Linked DNA regions of Homo sapiens: all the other regions are linked to region 1. Evidence: fine-mapped expression QTL. A gene starts in region 1. Each other region holds a variant in brackets. All regions are shown on one strand. Distances are from middle to middle. Region 1 holds the start of LIMK1 (LIM domain kinase 1). Region 2 has its middle 35 kb from the start of EIF4H. Region 3 has its middle 13 kb from the start of RFC2. Region 4 overlaps LIMK1 (LIM domain kinase 1). Region 5 has its middle 41 kb from the start of EIF4H.

The links.
Region 2: its variant is fine-mapped to the expression of LIMK1 in whole blood (TOPMed, PIP above 0.99).
Region 3: its variant is fine-mapped to the expression of LIMK1 in CD8 T cells (CEDAR, PIP 0.92).
Region 4: its variant is fine-mapped to the expression of LIMK1 in whole blood (TOPMed, PIP above 0.99).
Region 5: its variant is fine-mapped to the expression of LIMK1 in whole blood (INTERVAL, PIP above 0.99).

Annotation. Positions count from the first base shown.
Region 1 is chr7:74,082,071-74,086,186 of GRCh38, forward strand. It overlaps LIMK1 (LIM domain kinase 1), which reads left to right and starts at 1,734. Exons shown (of 16, transcript NM_002314.4): 1 at 1,734-1,975; 2 at 3,678-3,774. The coding sequence starts at 1,921. RefSeq lists enhancers at 434-1,112, 1,108-1,217, 1,113-1,791, 2,278-2,547, 3,059-3,658 and 1 more and silencers at 1,488-1,757, 1,878-1,927, 2,038-2,087.
Region 2 is chr7:74,136,906-74,141,021 of GRCh38, forward strand. No RefSeq gene overlaps it. Among named protein-coding and RNA genes, the nearest start is that of EIF4H, 35 kb to the right of the region's middle. RefSeq lists an enhancer at 1,920-2,449. The variant C/T (reference allele first, on the strand shown) is at 1,947.
Region 3 is chr7:74,264,957-74,269,072 of GRCh38, forward strand. No RefSeq gene overlaps it. Among named protein-coding and RNA genes, the nearest start is that of RFC2, 13 kb to the left of the region's middle. RefSeq lists an enhancer at 1,329-1,378. The variant C/CTG (reference allele first, on the strand shown) is at 2,004.
Region 4 is chr7:74,110,962-74,115,077 of GRCh38, forward strand. It overlaps LIMK1 (LIM domain kinase 1), which reads left to right. Exons shown (of 16, transcript NM_002314.4): 11 at 687-746; 12 at 972-1,037. Among named protein-coding and RNA genes, the nearest start is that of LIMK1, 29 kb to the left of the region's middle. The variant T/C (reference allele first, on the strand shown) is at 2,385.
Region 5 is chr7:74,130,827-74,134,942 of GRCh38, forward strand. No RefSeq gene overlaps it. Among named protein-coding and RNA genes, the nearest start is that of EIF4H, 41 kb to the right of the region's middle. RefSeq lists an enhancer at 2,237-3,024. The variant A/G (reference allele first, on the strand shown) is at 1,818.

The sequences.
Region 1 (4,116 bases):
CGCCTGTAATCCCAGCACTTTGGGAGGCCAAGGTGGGTGGATCACCTGAGGTCCAGAATTCGAGACCAGCCTGACCAACATGGAGAAACCCCGTCTCTATTAAAAATACAAAATTAGCCAGGTATGGTGGTGCATGCCTATAATCCCAGCTATTCCAGAGGCTGAGGCAGGAGAATGGCTTGAACCCGGGAGGTGGAGGTTGCTGTGAGCTGAGATCGCACCATTGCACTCCAGCCTGGGCAACAAGAGTGAAACTCCATTTCAAAAAAAAAAAAAGTTAGAAGAGACAGGGTTTCACTTCATTGCTTAAGCTGATCTCCAATTCCTGGCCCCACGTGATGCTCCCACCTTGGCCTCCCAAAGTGCTGGGATTATAGGTGTGAGCCACTGTGCCCAGCCTTCTTTCTCATGAGAAATTAAAAATTCTGGCCAGGCGTGGTGGCTCACACCTGTAATCCCAGCACTTTGGGAAGCCGAGGAGGGTGGATCACCTGAGGTCAGGAGTTCAGGACCAGCCTGGTCAACATGGTGAAACCTCATCTCTACTAAAAATACAAAAATTAGTCGGTCATGGTGGTGCACGCCTGTAATATCAGCTACTCGGGAGGCTAAGGTGGGAGAATTGCTTGAACCTGGGAGGTGGAGACTGCGGTGAGCCGAGATCCCGCCACTGCACTCCAGCCTAGGCAACAGAGCGAGACCGAATCTAAAAAAAGAAAAAAAAAATCTAGTATTTTCTTCCCACCCCACGTAATTGTTTTGCACCCAGGGGTGAGTGCCCCCCACTTTGCAGACGTGCCTAGACCTCTCCCCACAAACATGATGACTAGAGTTGGAGCTGGGCTAGCGCTGCCTCTTGTTCACTGGGTTCACGTGGGCACGTGGCTCCACTCCGGTCACTGCTTCCTGGGCAGAGGGATGACGTGGAAGGTAGACCTAGGGGGGACAGGGTTGCTTCCTGCCCATGTCCAGCATTCTAGAATTGTCCACATCTAGGCAGGGCGTTCCACCATCAGTGCTGGACTGGACCACCCAATTCCTTTGGACGCTTGACTCAGCCCAAACCCGTGCTCCCTCCAGGACCCTGGGCAGGGCAGCCCCAGCTCCAGGTAATCGGCACTGAGAAGAGTACACCTGTCACCGCCTGGCAGGGGCTCGCTCCTTTCTCTGGTGCTGCTCATTCGCGAGGCCTGAGACGCGGACCGTCACCTTCCCCGGGCCCAGCCTGGCCTCAATGCAGGCCTCAGAGAGAGGGACAAAACCCGGCCCGCCTCCCTCCCCTCCCCAAGGCGACCACCAGTGTCCTGGGGGTCCACAGGGCCTCTCCAGCTCTGATCCGAGTTCCCGGCTGCAGCTGGTTTGGGTCTGTGGGGGCCTCGCGCAGGGAAGCGGAGGCCCCTTCTCTAGGCTCCTACATCCTCCTGGCCTGCCCCAGCAGAGCTAGCGGCCCTCCGAGACAGCTGGGCCTCGCAGCTCCCAGCCGAGGCCTGTCGCTGGGAGAAAGAAGAATGAATGAAGGGCGGAAGGGGCGGGGAGGGGCGGGGCGCGCCGCGCCAGCTCGCGGCGCCCCCAGGCCGGGCCGCAGCGGGGCGTGGCCTCTAGAGGCGTGGCCTTGGGCGTGGGGGCGGGGTTTTCTGGTGGGGGCGGGGCCGCGCAGGGCCGTTCCCGCCGCCGGCCGCCCGCGCCCCGCCCCCGTGCCGCAGCTCACAGGCCCCGCCTCGGTCCGCCCCTCCGCTCGCTCCCCAAGCCGCCGCGGCGCCGAGCCGGTTTCCCCGCCGGTGTCCGAGAGGCGCCCCCGGCCCGGCCCGGCCCGGCCCGCGCCCTCCGCCCCCGCCTCCCCGGGCCGGCGGCGGTGGGCGAGCTCGCGGGCCCGGCCGCCCCCAGCCCCAGCCCCGCCGGGCCCCGCCCCCCGTCGAGTGCATGAGGTTGACGCTACTTTGTTGCACCTGGAGGGAAGAACGTATGGGAGAGGAAGGTGCGCGGGCCGCGGGGTGTGGGGCGAGGGCCTGGAGGGGGTGCCCGGGGCAGCGTGGGGCACGGGAGGGGGCCGGGTCTGCCAGGAGGCCGCGCCCCTGCCTCCTCCGGGATGAGCTCGTCCTTACGAAGCCCGCAGGCCCCTCCCTGTCCCCCTCCCGCCCGGGATCCCCCTCCCCGGCCCCCGGCGAGCTGCCCTCCTGCGGGTCTGGGGGCCCCTGGACCCTTTTTCCTCCTCCCACGTCCCCCCGCGAAGGACTCCCAGACACTGCCCACCCCGCGTCGGCCTCCATCCGCGTGCTCTGTCCACCACCCGGGCCTCGCCCTGGGGCCACCCTTTATCCAGTCTCGGAAGAAAGAGCGGCTGGGGAAGCCGCAGCCCCGGGTCCCAGTGGCCGCCGGGCGCCTGCCCGGCTCTGTGACCTTGAGCCAGGCGCTGACTTCCTGGTCCTCAGTTTCCCCTTCTGTACATTTGGAAACTGGGTAGTTGCCCCCCCGGTGTCGGTGATTGGGGGCCAGATGGGTAGAGCGGAGATAGGCGTCCAGGAAGCCGGAGGCCGTGTACTGCGGGAGCCTCATCCACTCTCCCTGTCCGTGCCCCAAACCCGGTGCCTGCCCTCAGTCTTGGCTGGGAGCATGACTCATCCTAACCTCCTCTTTAGCCCCTTCTCCCTCACTGGGGCCCAAGGCGCAGTACTGCACTGCAGTTAGGGTTCAAGGACTCCCCCAGCCTAGGACAGGGTCTGGGGGCCCCTCCTTGGATCTCCTTCGCTGACCTGTCACTTAGATCCACCTGGCCCCAAGGCAGGGCCTGACTCCACACCTCCCCCTGCCACCAACTCTTCCCAGGCCCATGAAAACCTGATTGGGGTAGGGGCCCACCTTCCTGTAGCCCCTGCCTACCTAAGGTACCTGCGTCTTCACAGAGGGTCAGGCTGTTGTGGCCTTGGGACCTAGCTATGTGACTGGGCAAGCCATGCCATCTCTGGGGCTCAGTCTCCCCTTCTGTACAGTGGAGAGGGGCAGGTCTGGGGCATTTTCCAGGGCCCACCAGCTCCAAGGGTGCCAGGCCCCAAGGATGACTAAGCATGCCTGTGGCTGGCTAGAGGAGGTGCCAGGCCTCCCTGGGACAGGTGTCTGGGAGTACCCAGGTCTGCAGCCCCCTCCCCTTGCCAAGCCAGGGCATTCATTGCCAAGGATCTGTTAGGGCCGGCACCTCCAGGCTTCCTGCCCTTGACCTCCCAGCTGGCTTCAGCCCAGGATGCACTAATCCAGCCCTGTCCAGTCCCTGCCTTTGAAGGGCCCTCTTAGTACTTCTTCCTGGGCAGGAGAGGGAAGAAAGGAGGCTGTGATAGGAATGTCACCCACTGCCTTATCCCTAAAGCCACTGCTTCCTTTCTCCTCATTTACCTTGCCAGATCCAATGCTATAGCGGGAGGATGGACCTGATCCTCCTCCTAAGCTGATACATAGGGAAACAGGGCCAGAGAAGCTTGGCAACCTAGTCAGTATCTCAGCAAGACTCAGGCCAGCGCCCTTTCTTCTCCTATTTGGCACAGCGACTGCCCTGCCTGGGCGCTGCACATGTGCAGTGTGCGAGGATTGGTGCAGGTGTAGGTATATGTGGGGTGGGCAGGGCAAGCTGGGCCTGCACCAGATCACACTTCCTGAGAATGCTTCCCAACTCCCTTCCCACCCTGCAGGAAGCGAGTTGCCCGTGTGTGCAAGCTGCGGCCAGAGGATCTATGATGGCCAGTACCTCCAGGCCCTGAACGCGGACTGGCACGCAGACTGCTTCAGGTAGGGTGGGGTGCCCAGGGCCTGTGTTGCCCTAAACAAGGCCTGCCAGAGAGGACAGGCTGGTCAAGGAATGGGGGAGGCCGGGATATGCCTCCTGGTGCCGTCCCCTATTGTGACTTCGTGGCCTTAATTTACCATTTATGACATGAGGTGTTTTGACTAGAAAATCCCTACAGGCCTTCCTGTTGTCATTTTATTTATCTATTTTTTTTTCTTTTTGAGACGGAGTCTCGCTCTGTCACCCAGGCTGGAGTACAGTGGTGCGATCTTGGCTCATTGCAACCTCTTCCTCCTGGGCTCACGCAGTTCTCCTGTGTCAGCCTCTGGAGTAGCTGGGATTAC
Region 2 (4,116 bases), 55 kb after region 1:
GCCACCACACCCAGCCTTTAATTTTATTTTCTATAGAGAGGAGTCCCATAATATTACCCAAGCTGGTCTCAAACTCTTGGCCTCAATAAATCCTCCCACCTCAGCCTCCTGAGTAGCTAGGACTACAGGAGTGCACCACCATGCCCAGCTAATGTTTTTATGTTTTGTAGAGATGAGGGTCTCATTATGTTGCCCAGGCTCGTCTTGAACTCCTGGGCTCAAGTGATCCATCCTCCTGCCTCAGCTTCCCAAAGTGCTGGGATTACAGGTGTGAGCAAACATGCCCAGCCTAATATTATTAATACATCGTAGCTGTCCATATTTATAGGGTGCATGTGAAATTTTGTTATGTGCATAGAAGTGAGATTGTAGGAACCAAGGAAAAAACTTCTGCTTCACCTTCTGAAGGTTTGCTGATAAATCAGCTCACAAAAGGCAGATTAATTAGAAAAAGGGGGATACAAATTGCATTCACACGTATCTGGGGAGAACCACACCACAGCGTGATTACCCACCACCCCAAAGGCGTTCAGACGCTTATATACCATCTTCTTTTTTTTTTTAAGTAGAGACTGGGTTTTCGCCATGTTGCCAGGCTGGTCTTGAACTCCTGCACTCAAGTGATCTTCCCCTCTTGGCCTCCCAAAGTGGCGCTGGGATTACCGCCATGAGCCACTGTGCCTGGCACTATATACATATATATAGATATGTATACATATCTATATCTATAGATATCTATATATCTATATCTATATGTATACATATCTATATATATAGACATGTGTATATATATCTATAGATATCGATATCTATAGATATAGATATACTATCTTGCAGATACAGAAAGAATAGGGGTTTGGATCCTGGTAAAACAGGTTATGGCAGGGGGAAGAAAGAGGAATTCTATTGAGGGGACATAAAAGATTACTGGGGGCTAGGCAGAGTGGCTCATGCCTGTAATCCTAGCACTTTGGGAGGCCAAGGTGGGCAGATCACTTGAGGTCAGGAGTTCGAGACCAGCCTGGCCAACATGGCGAAACCCTGTCTCTACTCAAAACACAAAAATTAGCCAGTCATGGTGGCACATAGCTGAAATCCCAGCTACTCAGGAGGCTGAGGCAGGAGAATCACTTGAACCCAGGAGGAGGAAGTTGCAGTGAGCTGAGATGGCATCACTGCACTCCAGCCTGGGTGACAGAGTGAGACTCCATCTCAATAAAAATAAAAATAAAAATAAAAATAAACATTGCTGGGGAGAATGAATGGATTTAGGAACAGAGATTAACTTGTACATAATTCTCTTTGGAATTTCAATGAGCCTGAGGGAGACATTATCTTGCGGAAGAGTCTGTTCAGGTGTGGTTCCATTCTTGATTTTATAGAAAGGAGAAGAAAAAAAAACAATTGTTTTCCTTGTTGAGGGGGGATGTCTGGATCTTAGGCAGAGAAAGTAACTTCAACTTCATCCTGTGCTGTGGGGGAAAAGACGGTCTTTTAGACACAGTTTATCGTTACTGCTGCTTTTCCTGTGTTTGGCCTATACCTTCCTGCCTCTTTGAATGATGGGTAGACCAGAGTTTGTGAGTCAATTTGTATTAGCTGTGTGATCTGGAGCAAGCTACTGTTGTCAGAGGAGTTTGAACCACAGTGATTCCATCTTGAATAGGGGGTGGGTAAAATGAGGCTGAGACCTGCTGATATTGACAGGAGGCAGCCAATTGCCTAGGCCAATAGGGGCGGGTCCGCGGTGAAACCCCACCTCCAACCCGAAGACGGTTTAAAGCCTGAAACTGAAGGTACAAGTTTAAACCTTAGACCGGATTGAGAGCTTACCTTCCTGTTTGTCGCGCTTTCCTCTGATTGATCCCCACCCTTCGCCTATTTTACATATACCCACCCTTTCCTAATTGGTTTTCTACTCTTTCTTTTTTTTTTTGACAGAGTCT[C/T]GCTCTGTCACCCAGGCTGGAGTGCAGTGGTGCAATCTCGGCTCACTGCAATCTCCACCCCCCGGGTTCATGTCATTCTCCTGCCTCAGCCTCCCCAGTAGCTGGGACTACAGGCGCCTGCTACCACGCCCGGCTAATTTTTTGTATTTTTTAGTAGAGATGAGGTTTCACCGTGTTAGCCAGGATGGCCTCAATCTCCTGACCTTGTGATCTGCCCGCCTTGGCCTCCCAAAGTGCTGGCATTACAGGCATGAGCCACCGTGCCCGGCGGTTTTCTACTCTTTCATGACCACCTTTGAGTAGTGTCTTTGCTTTAACTCACCTCATTAGCATAAACTCCAGTGTGATCAAAAGGACTCATTATAAATAACAAAAGACATTCCTCCAACTCCTGGACTTAAGGGATCCCTCAAGCAAGCCTCAGCCTCCTGAATAGCTGGGACTACTCCTTTTTGCATACTCACAAGCCAATCAGCACACACTCCCCACCCTGTGCCTATAAAGGCTCCAGACTCAGTCAGCAGGGGAAAAGACGACCTGACTTCGGGGAAGGCAGCCTGCACTTCCCATCCCCTCTCCAGCTCCCCTCTCCACTGAGAGTCGCTTTCATTGCTCAATAAAATTCTCCACCTTCATCATCCTTCAATCGTCCGTGTAACTTCATTCTTCCTGGATGCTGGACAAGAGCTTGGGACCCAGTGAGTGAGGATACCCAGAAAGGCTGTCACACTGGGCCTTTGCCCTCGCCTGTGAAGGGCAGCTGTCCCCATGTGATGAGGCAAGGGGCCAGCTGATCTGCTGACATGTCACCATCTGTGGACAGCAGAACTAAAGGAGCACTGTAATAACACCCCCTCTGCAGCTTCGGGGACACGGGCACCCTCACCTAGGTGCTGCTGCTTTCCCCTCAAGGTGACATGCCTGCTCTGGCCATGGGCCCTGCATACAGCTTGCTCCTGTGTTGGTGCCTGGAGAAGCCAGCTGGCCAGATCCCACACTTAGTCACTTGTGTGCTCCCTCCTGCAAGGGGTTGAGCACAGGGGGCTGAGTAGATGGGGCATCCCTTCCATGAGTCCAGCGAAGGTGCCTAGAAAAACCCTGCATCACCACTGAGCTACTTTCCCAGGAGGTGAGGCATTCCCAGTCACAGGATGACACAGGAGGGTGGCACAAGACATAGGTGACAAAAAACCTTGCTGATAAAACAGGTTGCAGCAAAGAAGCCGGCCAAAACCCACCAAAACCAAGGTGGCGATGAAAGTGACCTCTGGTAGGCTGGGTGCGGTGGCTCAACGCCTATAATCCCAGCACTTTGGGAGGCCCAGGCGGGCGGATCACCTGAGGCCAGGAGTTTGAGACCAGCCTGACCAACATGGAGAAACTCCGTCTCTACTAAAAATACAAAAAATTAGCTGGGCGTGGTGGCACATGCTTGTAATCCCAGCTACTCAGGAGGCTGAGGCAGGAGAATTGCTTGAACCCGGGAGGCGGAGGTTGCAGTGAGCCAAGATCGTGCCATTGCATTCTAGCCTGGATGACAAGAGTGAAACTCCATCTCAAAAAATAGAAAGAAAGTGACCTCTGGTCGTCCTCACTGCTCATTATGTGCTAATTATAATATATTAGCATGCTAAAGACACTCCCATCAGTGCCATGACAGTTTAGAAATGCCGTGGCAACATCAGGAAGTTACCCTATATTGTCTAAAAAGGGGAGGAACCGGCCGGGCGCAGTGGCTCATGCCTGTAATCCCAGCACTTTGGGAGGCCAAGGCAGGTGGATTGCAAGGTCAAGAGTTCAAGACCAGCCTGGCCAAGATGTGAAACCCTGTCTCTACTAAAAATACAAAAATTAGCTGGGCATGGTGGCGGGCGCCTGTAATCCCAGCTACTCCAGAGGCTGAGGCAGGAGAATTGCTTGGACCCAGGAGGCAGAGGTAGCAGTGAGCTGAGATTGCACCATTGCACTCCAGCCTGGGTGGCAGAGCAAGACTCTGTCTCAAAAAAAAGTGGGGAGGAACCCTCAGTTCCAGGAATTGCCCGTGCCTTTCCCAGAAAATTCATGAATAATCCACCCTTGTTGGGCATGTAATCAAGAGATAACTATAAAAAATATCCAGCCAGCAACCTTAGGGGATGCTCTGCCTATGGAGTAGACATTCTTTGTTCCT
Region 3 (4,116 bases), 180 kb after region 1:
TTTTTTTTTTTTTGTAGCAATAAGGTCTCCCTATATTGCCCAGGCTGATCTCAAACTCCTGGGTTCAAGCGATCCTCCTGCTTTGGCCTCCCAAAGTGTTGGAATTACAGGCGTGAGCCACTGGCCTGGTCTCTTGCCTTCTTTGAAAACGAAAAGGGTACAGGACTTTTCCTGATGGTATAGAGGTCAAATGTTTATGCATCATGATGTGGGCTGACCCCAGAGACGATGGATGGGAGACAGGCTGCTCCCCCCACACTATACGGCCTAGGTCATAGGCTGTTTGGATTCTTTACTTCTAATTTTAGTCTGTTTACTCATCTAAGCATTCCCTCCTTCCTGTCCTCAGTGAGCACATCAGCCCTGACCTTCCTGCAACCACTTTTTTTTTTTTTTTTTTTTGAGACAGAGTCTCGCTCTCTTACCCAGCCTGGGGTGCAGTGGTCCAATATCGGCTCACTGAAACCACTGCCTCCCGGGTTCAAGCGATTTTCCTGCCACAGCCTCCTGAGTAGCTGGGATTACAGGCGCCTGCCACCATGCCCAGCTAATTTTTTTTTTTTTTTTGAGACGGAGTCTTGCTCTGTCGCCAGGCTAGAGTGCAATGGCGCGATCTCGGCTCACTGCAACCTTTGACTCCCTGGTTCAAGTGATTCTCCTGCCTCAGCCTCCCGAGTAGGGATTACAGGCACGTGGCACCACGCCCAGCTAATTTTTGTACTTTTAGTAGAGACGGGGTTTCCCCATGTTGGCCAGGATGGTCTCGATCTCCTGACCTCGTGATCTGTCCGCCTCGGCCTCCCAAAGTGCTGGGATTACAGGCGTGAGCCACCGCACACCACCTAATTTTTGTATTTTTAGTAGAAATGGGGTTTCACCATGTTGGCCAGGCTGGTCTCGAACTCCTGACCTCAAGTGATCCGCCTGCCTTGGCCTCCCACAGTGCTGGGATTATAGGCATGAACCACCATGCCCGGTCACCTGTGGCCCCTTCTAAATCTGATGAGGGGTGGGGGACTAGAGAGCACCAAGCTCAGTTCATTTTATCCCATTTATCCCTCCACCAATGGTGGATGAGAGCCAAGAATGCATTTTTTTTGGTTTACTAATCTCCTGTGCAAATATATACATGTAAATATATCACAGTAATACATATTACATGTATACATATAAATATATTACATGCAATAGATATTACATGTATATATATAAATGTATTACATGCAATAGATATTACATGTGTATATATATGAGTGCTATTTCAATTTGCTTTTTTTGGAGACAGGGTCTCACTCTGTCACCTGCTGGAGTGCAGTGGTGCAATCACAGCTCAATTCAGCATCAACCTCCTGGGCTCAGGGGATCCTCCCATCTCAGCCTCCCCAGTAGCCAGGTCCACAGGCACACATCACCATGCCTGTATTTTTTGTAGAGATAGGGTCTTGCTATGTTGCCCAGGCTGGTCTTGAACTCCTGGACTCAAGCAATCCGCATGCCTCGGCCTCCCAAAGTGCTTGGATTATAGGCGTGAGCCACCGTGCCCAGCCTGTTTCAATTTTCATTGTCTTGTAGAGCATTTTACTATGTGTGTCGACCTTTTGTAGTTCCTCTTCTGTGACTTGTCTGCCCATTTTTCTTTTCTCTACAAATCGTACATTAAATTTGTCAGTTTCTAGCAATGCTTTAGAAGTATACACTCTTTGACCCAGAAGCCCGCTTTTAGAAACTTGTCTTACATAAATGCTTACACATGTGCACAAAGATATATATGTACTAGGATGTTCATTGCAGCAGCTTAGAATGGGGGAAGAGGGGAAGGAAATGAGATAAATGCCCATCAGTGTCAGAATGCATAGGTAAATTATGGTACATTCATACTATACAGTCACTGAAAAATGAAGGCTGTCTGCCTGTACTGACAGGGAAAGAGGTCTCTGTGACCCCTAAAAAAATACAGTCCAGAAAAAGCAGCATAGACTCCTGATAGAATCCTGTGTGTGTGT[C/CTG]TGTGTGTGTGTGTGTGTGTGTGTGTTTCCCTCAAGACAGAGTCTCGCTCTGTTGCCCAGGCTGGAGTGCAGTGGTGCGTGCGATCTTGGCTCACTGCAACCTCCGCCTCCTGGGTTCAAGCGATTCTCCTGCCTCAGCCTCCCGAGTAGCTGGGATTACAGGCGCACACCACCACCAGGCCGGGGTAATTTTTTGTATTTTTAGTAGAGACAGGGTTTCACCATGTTGGCCAGGCTAGTCTTGAACTCCTGACCGCGTGATCTGCCTGCCTAGGCGTCCTAAAGTGCTGGGATTACAGGGGTGAACCACCACGCCCGGCTGTTTTTTTTTTTTTTTTTTTTAATGTTTCTTTGGGAGGCTGAGGTGGGAAGACCACTTGAGCCCAGGAGTTCCAGAGTAGCCTGGGCAACATAGCAAGGCTCTGTCTCTATAAAAAATAATTTAAAAAAATTATTAGGCCAGGTGTGGTGGCTCATGCCCGTAATCCCAGCACTTTGGGAGGCTGAGGTGGGCAGATCACTTGAGGTCAGGAGTTTGAGACCAGCCTGGCCAACATGGCGAAACCCCGTTTCTACTAAAATACAAAAATTAGCCAGGCTGAGGCACGAGAATTGCTTGAACCTGGGAGGCAGAGGTTGCAGTGAGCCAAGATCATGTCACTGCGCTCTAGTCTGGTGACAGAGTGAGACTCTGTATTAAAACAAAAAAAATTAGGTGTGGTGGTGTGTGCCTGTAGTCCCAGCTACCTGGGAGGCTGAGGCAGGAGGATTGTTGGAGCCCAGGAGTTCAAGACCAGCCTGGGCAACATGACAAGACCCCATCTCTAACAACAACAACAAAAATTAGCTGAGCATGGTAGCATGTGCCTGTGGTCCCAGCGACTTGGGAGGCTGAAGTGGGAGGATTGCTTGACCCCAGGAGGTCAAGGCTGCAGTAAGCCATAATTGCACCACTACATTCCAGAGCCTGGGCAACAGAATGAGAGCATATCTTTAAAAAAAAAAAAAAAAAAAAAATGCAGGGTCAGCGGGCTGTGAGTGGGGATTGAGGACTTTCCTACCAGAAACCTGAGTGCCCCAGCATGCCCTTTTTAGGCTGTTTAGCAGGTCGGGGTTTTTTTCTTCTTCTTCCTGATGGGTTATCTGTGACATGAGATATTTTGACAGCGAGCCCACTTTAAGCTAAGAAGTTCTATACTGAAAAAAAAACAAACATCTACATGTCCACGCAGGATCAGTTAGGGAGTGATTAACTGCGTATAAGAAAAGATGACACCTCACCTAAGTAGCTTGACATTCCTTTTCAACAGCAATCTCATTATTCTCAAAACAAGGTTGTATCCACCATTCCAACACCATATCCACTGGAAATACAGCGGTGCACCTCGGTCTAATCTGGCCAGCTGGTGCTCCAATTTGGGAGGTGTATTTTATGTTCCTAACCCCAGAAATCTCCAAGTGTGGGTTTCATTACCTGTAGAAGGTGCCGTGGGCATTTTAAACCATGCTCTGTTTTTAGCACGCCTGCTTCTGTGCAGACACGCTCACCACATTCTTCGGGAAGCCCTGAGAGTGTCTATTCCAAGAAGGTCGTATCTCACAGGTAGAAATGTTTTCCTCGTACCTGAGGCTGTTGGATGCTGGGTGTCATTCTGAAAATCCTAAACCAGGCTGGGCAGCATACACCCACAGTCCCAGCTACTTGGGAGGCTGAGATAGGGGGTGGGGGGTATTGCTTGAGCCCAGGAGTTCGAGGTTGCAATGAGCTCTGATAGCACCACCGCACTCCAGCCTGGGTGATCCAGCACGGCCCTTCTCAAAATCAAAACAAAACAAAACAAAAAAAGGCCAGGCACGGTGGCTCATGCCTGTAATCCCAGCACTTTGGGAGGCCAAGGTGGGTGGATCACAAGGACAGGAGTTCAAGACCAGCCTGACCAACATGGTGAAAACCCCGTCTCTCACTAAAAACACAAAAATTAGCTGGGCATGGTCGCGGGTGCCTGTAATCCCAGCTACTTAGAAGGCTGAGGCAGGAGAAACGCTTGAACCTCCCCCTCCAAGGTTCAAGCGGTTCAAAAAAAAAAAAAGGAAAATTCTGAATCTTTGAGAT
Region 4 (4,116 bases), 29 kb after region 1:
GCGGTGGCTCACGCCTGTAATGCCAGCACTTTGGGAGGCTGAGGCAGGTGGATCACTTGAGGTTAGGAGTTTGAGAACAGCCTGGCCAACATGGTGAAACCCTGTCTCTACTAAAACTACAAAAATTAGCTGGGTTTGGTGGTGGACACCTGTAATCCCAGCTACTTGGGAGGCTGAGGCGAGAGAATTGCTTGAGGCCGGGTGCAGTGGCTCATGCCTGTAATCCCAACACTGGGAGGCCAAGGTGGGCAGATCACCTGAGGTAAGGAGTTCAAGACCAGCCTGACCAACATGGTGAAACCCCGTCTCTACTAAAAATACAAAAAATTAGCTGGGTGTGGTGGCGCATGCCCATAGTCCCAGCTACTCAGGAGGCTGAGACACAAGAATCACTTGAGCCCCGGAGGCGAAGGTTGTAGGGAGCTGAGATGGTACCACTGCACTCCACCCTGGGTGACAGAGTGAGACTCCATCTAAAGAAAAAAAAAAAAGGAAATAATGTCTGTGAGCTGTGTTGACTCATACTCCTTAGAAGCAGACAGTTGTGGGTGCCCGAAGAAATCGGGGTGTTGGGGAGCCCAGGGACCCTCTAGGACGCTTGCCTCTTCCTGCCTCTGTCTCATGCAACCATCCCTGCCATCGGGGCCCCCACCGGCCCCACCCTGGCCATTCTTTCTCCATCCCAGGACAGCCAGTACCCATGGAGCCAGAGAGTGAGCTTTGCCAAGGACATCGCATCAGGGATGGTGAGTGAGCCGGGTGCTCTAGCTCCATTCATAATCCCACCAGGAATTTGCAAACAGAACCCACAAAGAAGCTTTGAAAGAGGGCAGAGGGGGTCGATGGGAGAGTGGGAAGAATCGTCCCGACTGGCCTGATTGGGGTGGGAGCAGAGGGAGTTCCTGGGGAGCCAGGATGGGCTGGGGTCCCTCTGCACAGCTGCCCCCTGACTCCCGTGTCCCCGTCCCTAGGCCTACCTCCACTCCATGAACATCATCCACCGAGACCTCAACTCCCACAACTGCCTGGTCCGCGAGGTGAGTACCAGGGCCCCACGTGGCTGGGTGTCAGGAGACAGCAGGAGCCCATCCAACCCCAGCCTCAGGGCCTTCCCAGAACTGGAGGCCCCTCCATGTTGCCTCCATGACTTCAATTTGAGGTGGGGGTGGGGGGCAGCAGCCCGTGGGGAAGAGCGCAGGGTCAGGAGGCAGACAGACCTGGGTTTGAGTCCTGTCTCTGCCACTGACTCATGGTGGACCATCAGAGTCCCAGGCTGGTAGGAGGGTCTCATAAATCAATGAAGGAGAAAGTGACATGTAAGCTACAAAGGACCAGGACCGTGGTCTTCATAGAGCACAGCCCATGGCAGAGTGGCCATGGGCTACACCAGACAGCACCAGCATCTGGGGGCCACAGAGTGGGGGCATAGGCGTATGGGCTGGAGTGGTCAGGGCAGGCTTCCTGAAAGAGGAGGCTTGGCCAGACACAGTGGCTCACACCTGTAATCCCAGCACTTTGGGAGGCCGAGGCAGGCGGATCACGAGGTCAGGAGATCGAGACCGTCCTGGCTAACATGGGCACTGTGGCTCACACCTACAATCCCAACACTTTGGGAGGCCGAGGTGGGTGGATCACTTGAAGCCAGGAGTTCAAGACCAGCCTGGCCAACATGGCTAACACGGTGAAACCCCATCTCTACTAAAAATATAAAAAATTAGCCGGGCGTGGTGGCAGGTGCCTGTAGTCCCAACTACTTGGGAGGCTGAAGCAGGAGAATGGTGTGAACCCGGGAGGCGGAACTTGCAGTGAGCCAAGATCGCGCCACCGCACTCCAGCCTGGGTGACAGAGCGAGACTCCATCTCAAAAAAAAAAAGAGGAGGCTTTAGGTGGATATTTAAGCAGGGGACGGGCAGGCAAAGAGCCCAGTGTCTAAGGATTGTCAAGGGAGGAGAGCCCGGTTCTCCACCAAAAGCACAGGAGCGAGTAACCATGCCCATCTGGAGAGGTGGTGTATTCGTGTCCTGGGGCTGCCATCATGAAGTACTGTGAACCAGATGGCTCAAAACAACAGAAATGTGCTGGGCACAGTGGCTCACACCTAAAATCCCAGCAATTTGGGAGGCCAAGGCAGGTGGATTGCTTGAGCTCAGGAGTTTGAGACCAGCCTGGGCAACATTACGAAAGCCCATCTCTGCCAAAAATACAAAACGGAATAGCCAGCCGTGGTGGCATAAGCCTATGGTCCCAACTACCTGGGAGGCTGAGGTGGGAGGATCACTTGAGCCTGGGAGGTAGAGGTTGCAGTGAGCCAAGATTGTGCTACTCTACTCCAGCCTGGGAGACAGAGCCAGACCCTGTCTCAAAAAAACAAAACAAAACAAGG[T/C]CAGGCACTGTGGCTCACGCCTGTAATCCCAGCACTTTGGGAGGCCGAAGTGGGTGGATCACTTGAAGCCAGGAGTTCAAGACCAGCCTGGCCAACATGGCAAAACCCTGTTTCTACTAAAAATTCAAAAATTAGCAGGCATGGTGGCGCATGCCTGTAATCCCAGCTACTCGGGAGGCTGAGGCAGGAGAATTGCTTGAACCCAGGAGGCAGAGGTTGTAGTGAGCTGAGATTATGCCACTGCACTCCAGCCTGGGTGATAGAGTCAGACACCGTCTCAAAAAAAAAAAAGCATCACATGGCAAGAGGGGCTGACAAGAGACCCCCAAACTGACCATTATACAGACCCACTCTTGTGATAACTAACCTGGTCCCTCAATAACCCATTAATCTGTTAATTCATACAGAGCCCTCATGACCCAATCACCTCTTACAGGCCCTGCCTCTTAATACCGTTAGAGTCAGGCCAGGCATGGTGACATGGGCCTGTAGTCCCAGCTAGTTGGAAGGCTAGGTGGGAGGATCCCTTGAGTCCAGGAGGTAAATGTTACAGTGAGCTCTGATTGTGTCACTGCACTCCAGCCTGGGCAACAGAGCGAGCCCCTGTTTTTAAAACAGCAACAAGCCAGGCACAGTGGCTCACGCCTGTAATCCCAACACTTTGGGAGACTGAGGCAGGCAGATCACTTGAGGTCAGGAGTTCAAGACCAGCCTCACCAACACAGTGAGACCCCTCTCTACTAAAAATACAAAAATTAGCTGGGCGTGGTGGTGGGTGCCTGTAGTCTCAGCTACTCATGAGACTGAGGCAGAATTGCTTGAACCCGGGAGGTGGAGGTTGCTGTGAGCCGAGATCACGTCACTGCACTCCAGCAACAGAGTGGGACTCCATCTCAAAAAAAATAAAAAATAACAGAGATCTGTGTTGGCTTACACCTGTAATCCCAGCACTTTGGGAGTCCAAGATGGGCAGATTGCTTGAGCCCAGGAGTTTGAGACCAGCCAGGCAACATGGCAAAAAAATAAAAAAATTTGTCTCTACAAAAAAATTAAAAAATTAGCTGGCATGGTGGTGAGTATCTATAGTACCAGCTACTCAGGAGGTGGAGGTGGGAGGATCGCTTGAGCCTGGGAAGTTGAGGCTGCAATGAGCTGTGTTCGTGCCACTGCACTCCAGCCTGGGCCACGGGAGGGAGACTCTGCCTCAAAAAAAAAAAAAAAAAATCAAACCCGAAAAGCAAAAAACATAGACCTCACCTGCTTATTGGGAATATTCAAGATAAAATTAGGCCAGGCACGGTGGCTCACGCCTGTAATCCCAGCACTTTGGGAGGCCGACGTGGGCGGATCACGAGGTCAGGAGATCGAGACCATCCTGGCTAACACGGTGAAACCCCGTCTCTACTAAAAATACAAAAAATTAGCTGGGCATGGTGGCAGGCGCCTGTAGTCCCAGCTACTTGGGAGGCTGAGGCAGGAGAATGGCGTGAACCTGGGAGGCAGAGCTTGCAGTGAGCTGAGATCGTGCCACTGCACTTCAACCTGGGCAATAGAGCAAGACTCCAACTCAAAAAAAAAAAAAAAAAGATAAAATTGGGCCAGGTATGGTGGCTTACTCCTGTAATCCCAGCACTTTGAAAGGCTGAGGCAGGTGGACCACTTGAGGCCAGAAGTTGAAGACCAGTCTGGGCAACATAGCAAGACCCTATCTCAATCAGTCAATCAACCTAAA
Region 5 (4,116 bases), 49 kb after region 1:
TGCTACGTTTCCTTCTGGGATTGGTCCAAAACTGCTCACAAAAAACTTCAAAACTCTACTTTAAGAAGTTCCAGGCCGGGCACGGTGGCTCACGCCTGTAATCCCAGCACTTTGGGAGGCCGAGGCAGGCGAATCACAAGGTCAGGAGTTCGAGACCAGCCTGGCCAACATGGTGAAACCCCGTCTCTACTAAAAATACAATAAAAATTAGCTCAGCATAGAGGCGTGCGCCTGTAATCCCAGGTACTCGGGAGGCTGAGGCAGGAGAGTCACTTGAACCTGGGAGGCGGAGGTTGCAGTAAGCCAAGATCGCGCTACTGCACTCCAGCCCAGGCGACAGAGCGAGACTCTGTCTCAGGAAAAAAAAAAAAAAAAGAAGCTCCAATACCAAATTAAAGTCGTTTTTCAAGTATTGGTAAATCTTCCATAAACAGGGCAACACTTAATGATCAATAGATCATTCGACTAGGGCTTATGCTGGTGGATCTCTTTTGTTTAAAGCTCCAAACTCAGCTGGGCTTGGTGCTTCACGCCTGTAATCCCAGCACTTTAGGAGGCCAAGGCAGGTGGATCACCTGAGGTCAGAAGTTCGAGACCAGCCTGGCCAACATAGTGAAACCCCCGTCTGTACTAAAAATACAAAAATTAGACAGGCGTGGTGGCACAGAAAAAAAAAAGTCAATTATCCTATTTGGGGATTTAAATTATACTATTTTTTATTTTTTTGAGACAGAGTTTCACTCTGTCACCCAGTCTGGAGTGCAGTGGTACAATCTTAGCTCACTGCAACCTCCACCTCCTGAGTTCAAGCGATTCTCCTGCCTCAGCCTCCCGAGTAGCTAGGATTACAGGCACCAGCCACCACCTGGCTAATTTTTGTATTTTTTGTAGAGACGGGGTTTCACCATGTTGGCCAGGCTGGTCTCAAACTCCTGGCCTCAAGTGATCTGCCTGCTTCGGCCTCCCAAAGTACTGGGATTACAGGAGTGAGCCACCACACCACCTCGACCAGCCTTTTCCTCTATAAATTTAAAAAAAAAAAAAGGCCAGGTGCGGAGGTTCATGCCCGTAATCCCAGCACTTTGGGACGGATCACTGTAATTCCAGCTACTCAGGAGCCTGAGGCAGGAGGATCACTTGAACCCAGGAGTCGGAGGTTGCAGTGAACCAAGATTGCTCCACTGCACTCCAGCCTGGGCAACAGAGCAAGACTCCAGCTCAAAAACAAAGAAAAAAGAAAAAGGCCAGGTAAGGTGACTTACATCTGTAATCCCAGTACTTTGGGAAGCTGAGGCAGGAGGATTGCTTGAGCCCAGGAGTTCAAGGCTACAGTAAGCTAGTAAGCTATGATTGCACCACTGTGCTGCAGCCTGGGTGACAGAGCCAGACCCTGTCTCATGAAAAAAAAAAAAAAAAAAAAAAAAAAGAAAAGAAAAGAAAGGAAGAAAAGTGCCAAATTGTTTCTCAAAGCAGTTCTAGTGATTTATGGTCTCACTTGCAGTATATCAGATTCTTCGTTGTCCAGATCTTTTTAATTTTTTACAGACTAACAGGTACAATACAGTATCTTACTGTGGTACTAATTTGAGTTTCCCTGATTTCCTCTATAGTTGAGCATCTTTACGTGTTTAGTGGCCACTCATGTTTCTTCAGATCTTCTGCCTGCCTTCCTCCCTCCCTTCCTCCCTCCCTTCCTCCCTTCCTCCTTCCCGCCCTCCCTTCCTTTTTTTTTTTTTTTTTTTTTTTTTTGAGACGGAGTCTTGCTCTGTCGCCCAGGCTGGAGTGCAGTGGCGGGACCTCAGCTCACTACAAGCTCC[A/G]CCTCCCAAGTTAAATCGATTATCCGGCCTCAGCCTCCTGAGTAGCTGGGACTACAGGCGCCCGCCACCACGCCCAGCTAATTTTTTGTATTTTCAGTAGAGACAGGGTTTCACCGTGTTAGCCAGGATGGTCTCGATCTCCTGACCTCATGATCCGCCCACCTCGGCCTCCCAAAGTGCTGGGATTACAGGCGTGAGCGTGAGCCACCGCGCCCGGCCCCTTCCTTCTTTTTTTTTAAAAAGAGAGACGGGTGCTCCCTTTGGCAGCAGATATACTAAAAAAGAGAGACGGGAAGGCCAGGCACAGTGGCTCACACCTGTAATCCCAGCACTTTGAGAGGCCGAGGCTGGTGGATCACCTGAGGTCAGAAGTTCGAGACCAGCCTGGCCAACATGGTGAAACCCCATCTCTACTAAAAATACAAAATTAGACGGGTGTGGTAGTGCATGCCTGTAATCCCAGCTACTCAGGAGGCTGAGGCAGGAGAATCAATGAACCCGGGAGGCGAAAGTTGCAGAGAGATGAGATTGTGCCATTGCATTCCAGCCTGGGCAACAAGAGCGAAACTACGTCTCAAAAAAAAAAATGCATAAGTTTTGTGAACAAATATTTCATAATTTTCTCTACTGAGGTCTTAGACTTTTTTTTTTTACATTTTACAGAATACTTCATATCTTCTTTGTCTCTCCCCTTTTTTTTTGCAATCACCTTGAAAACATTAAGATTCAGATGGTCCTCTAATTTTCCTGTCTCCTGTTATCCTTTGTGGTGTGTGTGTGTGTGTGTGTGTGTGTGTGTGTGTGTGTGTGTGTGTGTGTTTGAGACAGAGTCTCACTCTGCTGGACAGGCTGCAGTAGAGTGATGGCATCTCGGCTCGCTGCAACCTCCGCCTCCTGGGCTCAAGTGATTCTCCTGCTTCAGCCTCCCGAGTAGCTGGGATTATCGGCATGTGCCACCACCCCTAGCTAATTTTTGTATTTTTAGTAGAGACGGGGTTTCACCATGTTGGCCAGGCTGGTTTCAAACTCTTGACCTCAAGTGATCTGCCCACCTCAGCCTCCCAAACTGCTGGGATTACAGACATGAGCCACTGCGCCCAGCCTGTTATCCTTTGTTTTTGGAAGGAAGCATTTGAAAAAGAGTGACTCTATCTTGAATAGGGGCTGGGTAAGATGAGGCTGAGACCTGCTGGGCTGCATTCCCAGTAGGTGAGACATTCTTATTCACAGGATGAGACAGAAGGTTGGCAGGACTGGTATCACAAGATACGGGTCACAAAGACCCTGCTGATAAAACAGGATGCTGACAGGGCACAGTGGCTCACTCCTGTAATCCCAGCATTCTGGGAGGCTGAGGCGGGCAAATCACTTGATGCCAGGAGATCAAGACCAGCCTGGCCAACATGGTGAAACCCTGTCTCTACCAAAAATACAAAAATTACCCAGACATGGTGGCAGGCACCTGTACTCCCAGCTACTCAGGAGGCTGAGGCAAGAGAATTGCTTGAACTCGGGAGGCAGAAGTTGCAGTGAGCCAGGATCGCACCACTGCACTCCAGACGGGGCAACAGAGCGAGACTCCATCCCAAAAAAAAAAAAAAAAAAGAAAACAAAAACAGGACGCAGTAAAGAAGCCAGCCCCAAAACCCACCAACAGTGATGAAACTGACCTCTGGTCATCCTCACTGCTCATTATACACTAATTATAATACATTACCATGCTAAAAGACACTCCCACCAGGACTATGACAGTTTACAAGTGCCACGGCAACACCCGGAAGTTACCCTATATGGTCTAAAAGAAGGAAGAACCCTCAGTTCTGGGAAATCCCTGCCCTTTCCTGGAAAACTCATGAATAACCCATACTTCGTTTAGCATAGAATGAAGAAATAACTGTAAGTATACTCAGTCAAGCAGCCCATGCCACTGCTCTGCCTATGGAGGAGTCACTCTTTATTCCTTTCCTATTCTTTTTTTTTTTTTCTTTTTCGAGACAGAGTCCCGCTCTGTTGCCCAGGCTGGAGTGCAGTGGCACAATCTTGACTCACTGCAACCTCTGCCTCCCAGGTTCAAGCAATTCTCCTGCCTCAGCCTTCCGAGTAGCTGGAATTACAGGTATGCACCACCACACCCAGCTAATTTTTGTATTTTTAATAGAGATGGAGTTTCACCAGGTTGGCCAGGCTGGTCTCGAACTCCTGACCTCAGGTGATCCACCTGCCTCAGCCTCCCAAAGTGCTGGAATTACAGACGTGAGCCACTGCGCCCGGCTATTCCTTTATTTTCCTGATAAGCTTG